Regions from separate parts of the Homo sapiens genome. Here regions 1, 2 and 3 are each linked to region 4. Evidence: fine-mapped expression QTL. A gene starts in region 4. Each other region holds a variant in brackets. All regions are shown on one strand. Distances are from middle to middle.

What was found. PIP is the estimated chance that this variant, and not a neighbour inherited with it, causes the effect.
Region 1: its variant is fine-mapped to the expression of MACROH2A1 in whole blood (INTERVAL, PIP above 0.99). The same link has a PIP of 0.9 or more in hippocampus, pancreas, sun-exposed skin, tibial artery, tibial nerve and unexposed skin.
Region 2: its variant is fine-mapped to the expression of MACROH2A1 in whole blood (TOPMed, PIP 0.96).
Region 3: its variant is fine-mapped to the expression of MACROH2A1 in whole blood (TOPMed, PIP above 0.99).

Annotation. Positions count from the first base shown.
Region 1 is chr5:135,333,530-135,336,211 of GRCh38, forward strand. MACROH2A1 (macroH2A.1 histone) reads right to left here. Exons shown (of 9, transcript NM_138610.3): 9 at 852-1,612. The coding sequence ends at 1,447. It overlaps PITX1-AS1 (PITX1 antisense RNA 1), which reads left to right. Exons shown (of 6, transcript NR_161235.1): 4 at 229-632. Among named protein-coding and RNA genes, the nearest start is that of MACROH2A1, 64 kb to the right of the region's middle. The variant A/AAAAAT (reference allele first, on the strand shown) is at 1,281.
Region 2 is chr5:135,340,727-135,343,408 of GRCh38, forward strand. It overlaps MACROH2A1 (macroH2A.1 histone), which reads right to left. Exons shown (of 9, transcript NM_138610.3): 8 at 2,534-2,682. It overlaps PITX1-AS1 (PITX1 antisense RNA 1), which reads left to right. Exons shown (of 6, transcript NR_161235.1): 6 at 2,429-2,682. Among named protein-coding and RNA genes, the nearest start is that of MACROH2A1, 57 kb to the right of the region's middle. RefSeq lists an enhancer at 1,713-2,682. The variant A/G (reference allele first, on the strand shown) is at 1,461.
Region 3 is chr5:135,423,861-135,426,542 of GRCh38, forward strand. No RefSeq gene overlaps it. Among named protein-coding and RNA genes, the nearest start is that of DCANP1, 22 kb to the right of the region's middle. RefSeq lists an enhancer at 2,298-2,347. The variant G/C (reference allele first, on the strand shown) is at 1,672.
Region 4 is chr5:135,397,863-135,400,544 of GRCh38, forward strand. MACROH2A1 (macroH2A.1 histone) reads right to left here and starts at 1,369. Exons shown (of 9, transcript NM_138610.3): 1 at 1,200-1,369. RefSeq lists silencers at 705-764, 1,075-1,244, 1,255-1,714 and enhancers at 1,615-2,120, 2,121-2,626.

The DNA.
Region 1 (2,682 bases), 64 kb before region 4:
AAAATGATCCTTTACATTCGGCCACGATATGAAGTGTACTGCATATTTCTTCCTGGTTAAAGTCTGCTTTAGACGCAGGCTTCTTTCTTTTCTTTCTCTTTTCTTTTTTCCTCTTTCTTTCTTTCAAGAGACGGAAAGAGTCTTCTGTGTATTTTAGGCAAATTTAGGTTAAGGTGTAAGTGCCCTTTGAAGCAAAAAGTGTCCATGTTTTGCTAACATATATTTTAGCTACTCTGGCTTGGCTGAGGTCTTCCTAGATAATCAACATCCCTCAACAGCCTTGGCGGTGAGAAGGCACGTGAAAGCTGCCAGCACATCCCAGGAGCCTTGGCTGTGGCGGCTTCTCCTTGGAAAGCTCCACGCACCCTTCTGCCAGGGATCCTGTCCTGCAGGGATGACAGACCCAGCAGCCTCGGCAGAGGGAATGAGGCTCCAGCAGCTTCATCAGCAAGTGGCCAGGCCCAGCCCTAAGTCACAGACTGTCAGAAGGGGACAATGGTAGGAGAGAGCTGGGCTCAGGGTCTGGAGCCTGCCACATGCCACCTGCACGGCTTTGGATACACTCCCTCCTTCATCTGTGGAACGGGGAATGGGGATAACACCCTGGCCCAAGGGTCACACAGAACCAAAAGGTGAGACTTTATAAAAATTCTCTCTACAAACCACTGGGGCCAGCAGATGGCCCACACCCACCCAGGTTGCAGTGAACACTGTGGAGCATCCAAGGAGTTGTGGGAGCAGGGTGGGGGTTGAGGGGGATGGACTGCCCTGCCCCCACATCCTGGGACTGCAGAAGCCGACTTAAGACCTGTGACTCACGGGCACAATAACTGGAACACACCAGTCACAACAACGGTTTAACATTTTACTAAATCAACTCACACAAATTCCAAATTGCAAATATAATTAAGGACAACAGATTCTGCTTTGCCTTATTAAATCTTTCATTTTCAAATCCATCAATAAGACAAAAAGTAACCAAAAATTAGGTCTGTTGCAAATTCATGATTCTTCTGAGGGGGGAAACCAAAAGAACATTAGAGTAAAAAGAACGCCACTGGAGGATGTACAATAAAGCACCACAACACACGCTTACAAACGGGGCTTCCTGGCTTCGGTGACAGGTAAAAGACGCTGTTCTCCCCACTGCTGTGCGTCAATCAGGGTTTCATTAAAATAAAACTATAAAATCTCCTAGGTTACACTAAGTCAGACACGGTCTGGAACACAGTGCTTAACAACAGTAATGCCAACTATCAGTGCTAACATAAAAACATTTT[A/AAAAAT]GAAGGTCAAAAACAATTAAACTGGAAACCAAAGCCTTATTTTCCCTAGATGAGCAAAACTGAAAATGAAAGGGGTCCCACCTCCCAGTAGGAGTGAAGGGGATTTTTTTTTTCTTTTAAACTGAAGGTGGGGTACATGGTGCAGCTGGTTCTGTCATTGCTCAGCCTAGTTGGCGTCCAGCTTGGCCATTTCCTGCACATAGATGCCTATACTCTCGCTGTCAAAAAGCACGAAGTACACCGTTTTGATGGAAGAGGACATTGTAGACACGAAGTAACTGGAGATGGCCTTCAGAATCAGCTGAGCTGCTGTCTGCTTTGGAAAACCGTTCCTGGAGAAGAGAAGATAAGCACTCAGCAACTGGGATGCCACGGGGGCTGCAGGACCTGCCCCACCTTACAGGCCACCTCCCTCTGTGCTGCAGCTTGCCTTGTGTTGGGTCGGTGTCTGTTGAGCCCCGTGTCTGCTTGTACGCCAGTGTGGGAAAGCCCAGTGCCCAGAAGATGGGATGGGGGACAGACAACTGGGCAGAGAGCTGGCACCTGCAGAAGGATGTGCTATGTGCTTTTAGAGAAGGCAGTAGCCAGCAAACAGAATAGTGTTTTGTGGTGTGCATTAAGCCCCCGAAGTACAGTGTAAGCTCCTGATTTTCTTTTTCCATGATACCTTTGACTAGCACAGTGCCTGAGCCATAGCCCAGGCTCTTGATGTCAGCCCCAGGGGATGGCTGCAGGTTCTCTGGGAAGGCACTGACCTCTATCCACCCACACAGAAGAGTTACCCCTTCACACCAGGGGCCACCGCCCAGGAATCCACCCTCTAACACACACCAGCGGTACCACCCCAGAGGCCAGAACGCAGGGAGCTGTGGGCTCTTCAACTCTGGGCTATCATCCAAGTTTCCAAGCCAAATGTGTTTGAATCCACACACATTTCCACTTCAAATAAATGTCGTGGCAATTTTTGGAGGTAGGTGCTCTGGACTTAAAAATGTGAAATCAGGACTGGCAAGACTGGCCCTCACTGCTCTGTGGTGTGCCTGAGGCTGCTCCTGGTCAGCATGGCATGTGGGTAGCCCAGGGGACCCCGGAGGAGATGGGCAGCTTGCCTGGTCTAGTGAAAACCTGGGTTTAGAGCCAGTGGCCCTGGATTCACATCCCTTACTGGTCCCATTTTACAGTTAAGGATACTGAGGGTGAGTCTGGGGCCAGCTCTCATGGGTAGGCTCTTTGTTCATTGGCAGATCTACAGTCACAGATCCGCCTGAGCCTGTGGGCGTGTTGGTGTCCAAAGCGCTGGGCCAACCCGCCTATTTCAGCTGGAGCTCTCCCTCACATGAGGCACCTGCTGCCAGGTGGAGGGGTTTCCAGAGGTGGTAAGGTGGGTATCTACTGTAGTACT
Region 2 (2,682 bases), 57 kb before region 4:
CCAGAGACACTGGATGCAACAAACAAGCTGTTTTATTTCCCCTCCTAAAACCCACTGTGATTTACTGGCCGGCTCTGGTGTAATCCCATTTTTTTTTACTCATGAAAGAGAGGGCAGCTGTTTACACAGCTCTATGGGGTGAGGTCTGCCTGGCAGATGTGGCCTGGGTAGCTGTACACATGTGCTGCCTTAGGCATTTCCCCCTCTTCAAGCTTTCAATTGATTATTTTTATTCCTACTTTTTACTCCATGAAAAATGTAAATAAGTTTGTAATAACAGATGCTCTTTTATGAGAATTACTTTTATGCTTCAATTAAAAATTTCCCAATACCCATATGAAAGGTTGTGAAATTATTACCTCCAATAAAGTTTCCTATTGCCTCCCTCTGCGGAAGCACCTTTCATCAGAGCAGATCAAAGTGCATTGAAAGCACTAATTAACTGAGCCTCAGAACCATTTGTGAGGATGGGCAGTCCCTATAGCCTCACTTGCTGATAAGGCAGACCAGGGCAGAGAGGCTGATTCATTTAACCAAAGGTCACACAGGATAGGAGAGCTGAGGGGCCTCACTCACAGAACCCCAGGACCAGACAGCCCAGAGATGTGAGGCCAGGGAAGGGGGAGGCAAGCCTGCCCATAGCTCAACAACTGGTGAGGGGTTGCTGGGGAAATGCTCATTCTGCTGTTTTGCCCTTGACTGGGAGAAGTGGGGGTGGCGGCGGGTGGCGGGCAGTGATACAGGCTCCAGAGAAGGTTCAGGTGCAACCAGAGATCTTTCCCCAGAGCCTGGTACTGGTGGGTCCTGCCAGTCACACATGGCCTTGGCCATAGAAAGCCCTGGGGAACGGTGGCAGTGCCCATCTGCCTGTGGACAAGGCCTTTTACTAGGCAGAATGTCAAGTGACAGGAAGCCCACTCTGTACTAGTTCTGCCACCAGTACTTGAGGTGTGGGACCTCAGTGATGGCAGCATGCAGGAGGCAAAATCACGAGGCCTGCCTAAGCGGAAAATGGCAAAATCTACTCTCTATCCTCTAGAAAGTTTGGAAGGAAAGTGCTTTGCAGAGAGCAGCTGTCAGTTCAGGACATGGTTCTGAGGACTGTTGCTCAGGCTCGCCCAGAAGGGACAGCCTGCAGTGTCATAGGCAGTTGATGCTGCACAGCCCTGCCTTCCTTGGGTGCTGGGAGGGGCTGATGGGCAGAGACCCCAGAAGGCTCACAAGCTGGGATGGGAAGCCCCAGGAGCAGTGGCAGGTACTCTGTCCAAAGCAAGCCACCTGCCAATACAGAACCCCAGGTTATGGCTCCTCTTGGGCGCAAGTTGTTAACAGCTACAGCCTCTAAAGGCCAGTTTCTCTTTGCTTCAGTGCCCAATGCAGACCTCGAGCCTTCCAGAGGCCTTGGACTCTTGGACTTAGACCCTTGGTAGGGAGGACCCTAGCAATGGGCAGTGGGACAC[A/G]ATCTCAGAGGTGGCTCTGCCCTGACAGGTCCTCATGTCTGCATCATGGGACACACTTCTGAAAGCACTCTGCCTTCTAAGAGCTCCTTTAATTTCTAGAGCAACCCTGAGATACTGCATGGGGGGATTATTATGCCAACTTCTCAGAATGGGGGTTAATTTACATGTCATCACTCACCGGGTTAGTGGCCAAGCCAGGATGCAACTCCAGGCCTGACCCCTAAGCCAGAGTGCAGTGCTGCTCCAACAGGCAGGAACCTGATAGGTTATTTGCTGACATGTGTGGGGTGTACAACCAGGTAGGTATTGTGGGGGTTGCCCTGAGCCCTACCTGCATCATCAGCTGTCGAAAAACTAGACTTCTCCTGTGGTGGTCCTCCGGGTATGTGTATGTCTTAGGGGCAACTGTGTTGGTCGTGAAGACCTTGGTGAGTCTACCTGGGGATTTTCTGGGACAGGAAGTGGAGTAGGGCCCAGCCCTGTTTCAATCTCACGTAATTCCCCATTCCGTTCCACCAGGTCCCATTACCTCATTAGCAGGCCAGCAGGGTTACCCTAGGGCAGTAAGACAGGGAGTCAGGTAGAGATGCAGGTTCTCAGGAGGTGAAATATACTTGTGAGTAGAAAGGAAAGGGGCAGAGGGCTTTATCCAAAGAATACTGTGGTTTGGGGGACAGACCATAACACAGCTATAGCCTTATTCTGAGACAGCCAAGCTGTTCGTTTGTATCCCTGTATTCACGCCTCCAGATCTTCTCCACCCAAGTCACTGTGCCCCTCAAAACTTACTCTCTGAGGTACCATTTCTGTGGTCCCAGTACACACTGGGTTCCCCTTCTGTGATGACATTTGCTATCAAAACTTAAGTTTTATATCATCCTTGGGATTTGGGTCTCTCTAATTGTCCCTCACCATCATTTAATGTCTGCATTCTTCCCTGTGTTGTGCTTCTGGTCTCCTTGGTTAAGGCAGCCTCCGTGGGCCTTGCACAGAGTGAGAGCACCACAATTATGGGCCATGTGTGCGCAGAGAGACACACCCATGACCGATACGTAACAAGCATGTGCCCCTACCTGCCGCTGCCGATGGATGGAAATGCAATGGATTTCAGCTTCTTATCATCAGCCAGGGCCAAGCAGTTTTTCACTGTCTTTTCCAGAAGTTCTTCACACTTGTCTGCACCCCAAACTGGACTATTACAGTGGATCACAAACTTGGCAGG
Region 3 (2,682 bases), 26 kb after region 4:
TAGACAGAGCTAGGAAGTATATGTACATATGTAATAACCCACATATATATTTATATACATACATGTCTGCAATTATTTCTGTCTCTCTCCATCTGTATCTATTTTAAGCTACTCATGAGTTCATACTGCTGTCTGCACTAATCTACAACCACATGCTTCATTCCAGCCTTCCCCACATGCGTCTCTGCAACCTCTAGCTCTAACAGTGGGAAACCTGGCTTCCACCCCCTCTCTCTGTTTCATTTACTCATTTGTTCATTCCCATCATATATGTGCAGCAGGTTCAGAATTGTTAACCTATATCCCTGTGAGGAACAGCTTCACTAGTAAAGTTTCTTATTTCTGCGCAGTTCCTTTTGTCATTAATCTTGCAGTTTCCAATCAAAACACCATTTTCCAAACATTTTGATATTTCTTTGTCATAAATATTTTGCATTAATTTTGATTTTTAAAATATTGCAATTATAGATTATTTATGACAAGTATTAAGTTTTTTTTGAGCCCCCTTGCATTTTGCACCCAGAGGGAGTCCCTCACTGGACTTTATCTTAGTCTTGCCTTTCCAGGGGCAGATCTCCATAATCCAATCAGAGATTGAAATGATTTAATATTGGAAGCTAGATTTGGCTAGAGTTGGTCTAGTTCTGGTCCACTCGTTGTATCAAATACCTCTTACATTCTTTCTCAGATCCTATGAGTTTCGCCTGTCTTTAGGGCTATTGGTTACCTGTTCAGCCCTGGCCAACACAAGGGTTACTGACTCTGAAAAAGGCATTCAAGTCAGCATTATTCTAACACATGAGTCTGCTGTGAAGTGTCTCTGGCTTCCCCTACAGCTTTTACACCCAGATGTAAAGGGTGTGGGATATGTCTGTCTTGGCACTGCTAAAGGGATTGGCGTATAATATGGAAATGTAGGAGTTAACCCTCTATGGAGTGAACTTTTACTCTAGGGGACAAGAGATGCAAGGCACTGGCAGGAAAATTCTCAACCTGCATACCCTTGGAAGGACTGTTCAGAGACACATAGCATTTCCCATGAAATGGAGCAGTCAGCTGTGATTGTTGTAAAGCTCAGTGATCCACTTCCTTATATATGTTCATCCTACTCTGCTTCACTCACCTTTCTTCCTCACTCCAGCTTCCCTGCAATTGTATTTCCTAGGAAGCATGCAAGCTTTTTCTTTGGGCTCTGCATTCTAGGAAACCTGGGCCAAGATTCTCTTATTCCTATGCTGTAGATATTCGAGATCCCAGCTTAAAACCTGAGCTGCTTATCATAGCCTCTCCTGATTGGCAAATCTTGAATTCTAATTTTTGTACCTGCACCCAGGTGAGAGATGGCCAAAAGTTCTTCTCAGCTTCTCAGCTGGACCTTTCTGACCAGCTTTTCAACCAAAAAGTTTGAAATGGCAAATATCCCAAGGAGAAGGACTGCTGAAAATTGGGCTTCCTTGGCTGGGCGTGGTGGCTCACGCCTATAATCCCAGCACTTTGGGAGGCCAAGACCAGGAGTTCAAGACCAGCCTGGCTAACATGGTGAAACCCCATCTCTACTAAAAATAAGAAAACTAGCAGGGCATGGTGGTGGGCACCTGTAATCTCAACTACTCAGGAGGCTGAGGCAGGAGAATCGCTTGAACCCGGGAGGTGGAAGTTGCAGTGAGCTGA[G/C]ATTACGCCATTGCACTCCAGCCTGGGCAACAAGAGTGAAACTCTGTCTTAAGAGAAAAAAAAAGAAAGAAAGAAAGAAGGAAAGAAAGAAAGAAGAGAAAATTGGGCTTCCTTCTCCCCTAGATCTTGCTTCTGGAGGTCTGTCATTACTCTTCAATGCCATCACACAGATTAAATGACATATTTTTGTCCTTTTCTAGTTATTTTCAGCTAAAGGCTTGGCCTGGAAAAAAGCTAGCTCCCCATTCTAGGAAGCAGAACTCTCAACCCTTGGTTTTAACAGGAAACCACAGGGTAATGCTGGAGAAACTGCTGTTTTCTTGTAGACTCTTGCAGGCCCCAGACCCAACAGAGAACAAAATGGGGCCTGTCCCGTTGTGTGCCTGTCTTCTTCTTTCTGTTTTTTCTCAGTGTCTTCATTTTCTAACAGCTCTACGTGTTTGGATGTTTTGGTAGGTGGTAGCTTGAGCACATTTTTTCCTTGCCTTATGCAAGCAGGTCTTTCAGCTGGAGAATTTTTATACGTGTTGGAAAAATATGGGCAGAGTTAGTTGTGAGGACAATTGCAAAGGAGATGGAAGCTGGGGGGTAGGTGTGAAAGGAGCTTTCTGTGCTGTCTCCCATCCTATTGTTCGGGAACCTGTCCACAATTCTAGTGTCTGCCTCTGGCCCCTTTCTATAAATGTTGACTCCATTTCTCACTGTCATGAGGATTCAGGTATTATGTGCACCAGCTATTACATAGTATCGCCCTCTGGTGGTACAGAACTGTTAGCCCCTGTATTAAAGGGGTCCAGAACGTTGCTATTACATGCTCTTTGTCAACAAGGGAGGAGACAGAACAATAGTTTTTTAAAAAGGACTACCAAATCTCACATTTTATAAGAATGAATCTTTCTCCATTGATCTGCTGCCCTAATGACCTGGGAAAGAGGTGAATTGCCCTTGTTAAAACTGTTTCTGATTTATGAGTCAATAGGTAACAGGCAAGAGGCCACTGTAGCTTCTCAG
Region 4 (2,682 bases):
ATGCCCGACTCCCTGGAGCAGGGAGCTTTGGAACAAAACACTTCCCTTACCCCCTACTTTAACGGTAAAACCTCAAACCACAAAGGTGGAAGAAAAGAGGGAAGCTAGCAGGAGTGCCCCCTCTAATTGTCTATTCTTATGTGCTGTTTACTGGGTCATTAAAATCTTACAAGGCCTTTATAGTCATTGTAATTGTTGAATTCAAGGTTTGTCCCAGTTGTTTGTACAGAAGTCTCTCACTTTGAAACTCAGAAACATTTCCCCTAACATCTTGTCTAAAAGAACCTTTCAAGCAATGTACTGACCAACTCCTTGAGTGATCTGTGGCCCCTGCAGGAGTGGGGGTAGGGAGCGCCATGTCGCACACCTGTTGTCAGGTGACACTGCCAGCAGCATCCTGCACACTCACCTCCCCACTCCACCCCACCCCCAGCGAGGCTCTTTCCTGCTGGCCTTCTCCACCCGGGGAAGCCTACAGCCTTCCGGAGTTACCTTTTAAAAAAAGCAAACCCTTCCTACCACAAAGCAAACAAAAGGCTGATACCGAGACAATCGGGAGCAGCGGGGGTTCCCGTGGCCCCTCTCCAGCCCATCCTTGGACCACTCCCCAACCCGGTCCCCCGCACCAGCCCGGCTTCAATCCCGCGAGTAGCCCCCGCCTTCCCCTCCCTGCAGATAGCGAGCCAGACGCCTACACCTCGGCCCCCCGGGGCTCGGGCCCGACTTATTGTGCCGGGGCCGGCAACTCGCGGGCCGGCGGGGGCCTCACCAAGTACAACTCTGCTCACAGCAGCTCCCGGGTGCCCAGGCCCAGACTGCCTAGCCAGCGCCGCGGGGCCTCCTGCGGCCTCGGGCCTGGCCCGTGAGCCCGCCCCAGGAAGGGTCGCCAGGGTAGGCGCCAGCACCGCTTTTTTCCCACAAAAGCGCCCAGGCGCGGGCAGGGGGATGCGTTTCGAAGAGAAGTTGGTTTCCAGGTTTCTTTTTTGAACAAAACCAAAGGGAATCCCGCGCGGCCCGACAAGGCCTGGGAGGACGTAGTGCACGCGCGAGGACCCGGCGTGGGCCACACCGAACCCGGCGGCCCGAGCCCGGCCCGCACCACACCGGTGCGCGCCAGGCCGGGCCGCTCCCGGGCACCCGCGGCCGGACCCGAGCGGCGGGGACAGGGAGTGCGGCAAGGGGGCCCGCGCGGCACTTACGCGGCGGCTCGGTGGCGGCGGCGGCAGCTGCAAGGTGTCTCGGCCTGAGCCCTCCTGGCCGCTCGCGCCTTTTCTCTCCGCGCTCCTCGCTGGCCCGCCCGCCTCTTCGCTTCCCGCCCGCGCGGCCCGCGCTCTCCCCCTCCGCCCGGCGCCGCTGCCGAGTGAACTGGAACCAGTCCTCGCGGCCGGCTTCCCACAATGCACAGCGCGCCGCTCGTCACATCCCTTCGCGGCCCCGAGCGTCCGGCCTCCGCGCCCGTGCCGCCCGGCGCCCCGGCCTTGACCCCGGGCCCGCGCCCTACCCGTTGACGCCGGCCGCTCTGCGCCCAGGCACCAGCCCGCACCCCGGACGCGAGGTCTGACCCATGACCCCGGGGACGCCCAGAGCCCAGTCCTTGGGAAGGGCCAGGCCCCTGGAGAGGAGCTTCTTCAGGGCGCGTCCCAGACTCTGCGTCTCGAGTGAACGCCTACTGTGTGCCTGGCTCTGAGCACGGGACTGTCGCTGCCACGGCATCTTTAGGAACCTTCCCACTAACCCAGTGGGAAGGCACAATGGCTGTTACCAGCGATCGCTCTTCCCTCCCCAGTCAATGCCAACTCCCCCCTGCCCCGCCTCAGAGACCCCGCTGTCTTTAGATACAGGCCACCGCCAAGCCCTGGTCTGCCCCAAGATCAATTACTGCGCACCCGGTTCCCCTGGGGTCCTTCAGTTAATCCTCCTCACCCCGAAGTCTGGAACCTGCCTTGCACATGGAAGCGGTTAGCTACTTCGCTTCAGCAAAAGTTCACTTTCGGACCCAAGTTGGGAATTACTAATGTAGACAGTGATTCCTTATCATCACACACGTTTTTTAAAAACTGCGGACAGGCCGAAAGAGGAGGAGCCGCCACAAAGCCCGCCACGTCTTCCTAAATTGGTTTACCGCCTGAAGGCATTGGTGCCCCATCCCGGGTACTTAAATGGGGGCCTGCCCTCTACTCCCCTCCCTCCAAAGTGTGGAGCCGGAAGCCACTTCTCCATCCAGCTGTGAACTAAATTTGGATAATAATACACATCCCTCAGGGTTGATGTGAAGTTTAAAGTGCCGCTACTGGGGATTATGGAGGTAATTAGAGACCCCCACCCCCACCCCCCAGTCCTCAGGCTGCGCGGGAATCGCAGCGGCAGTAACCTCCACCTCACCGGGATGCTTTACACCTTACTTTAAGAGTTTGCAAAACAATGTCCAATACCTGCCATTCATGCATTCGTTAATTCGATTAAGTACTGAGAACGTATTTTGTGTCATACATCGATTTGGGTGCTGGATATGAAACAGCCAAGAGAACAGGCAGAAATCTCTGCCCTCCTGTAGTTTGCAGTCTCGTGGGGGAAAGACAGACAAACGGGAGAATGTGTCAGAGGGTCTCCATGGGGTGGAGAAAAATAAGGCGGAGAAGGGGAATAGGAAGTGTGAGATAAGAGTGAGGCTCAAATACAAGA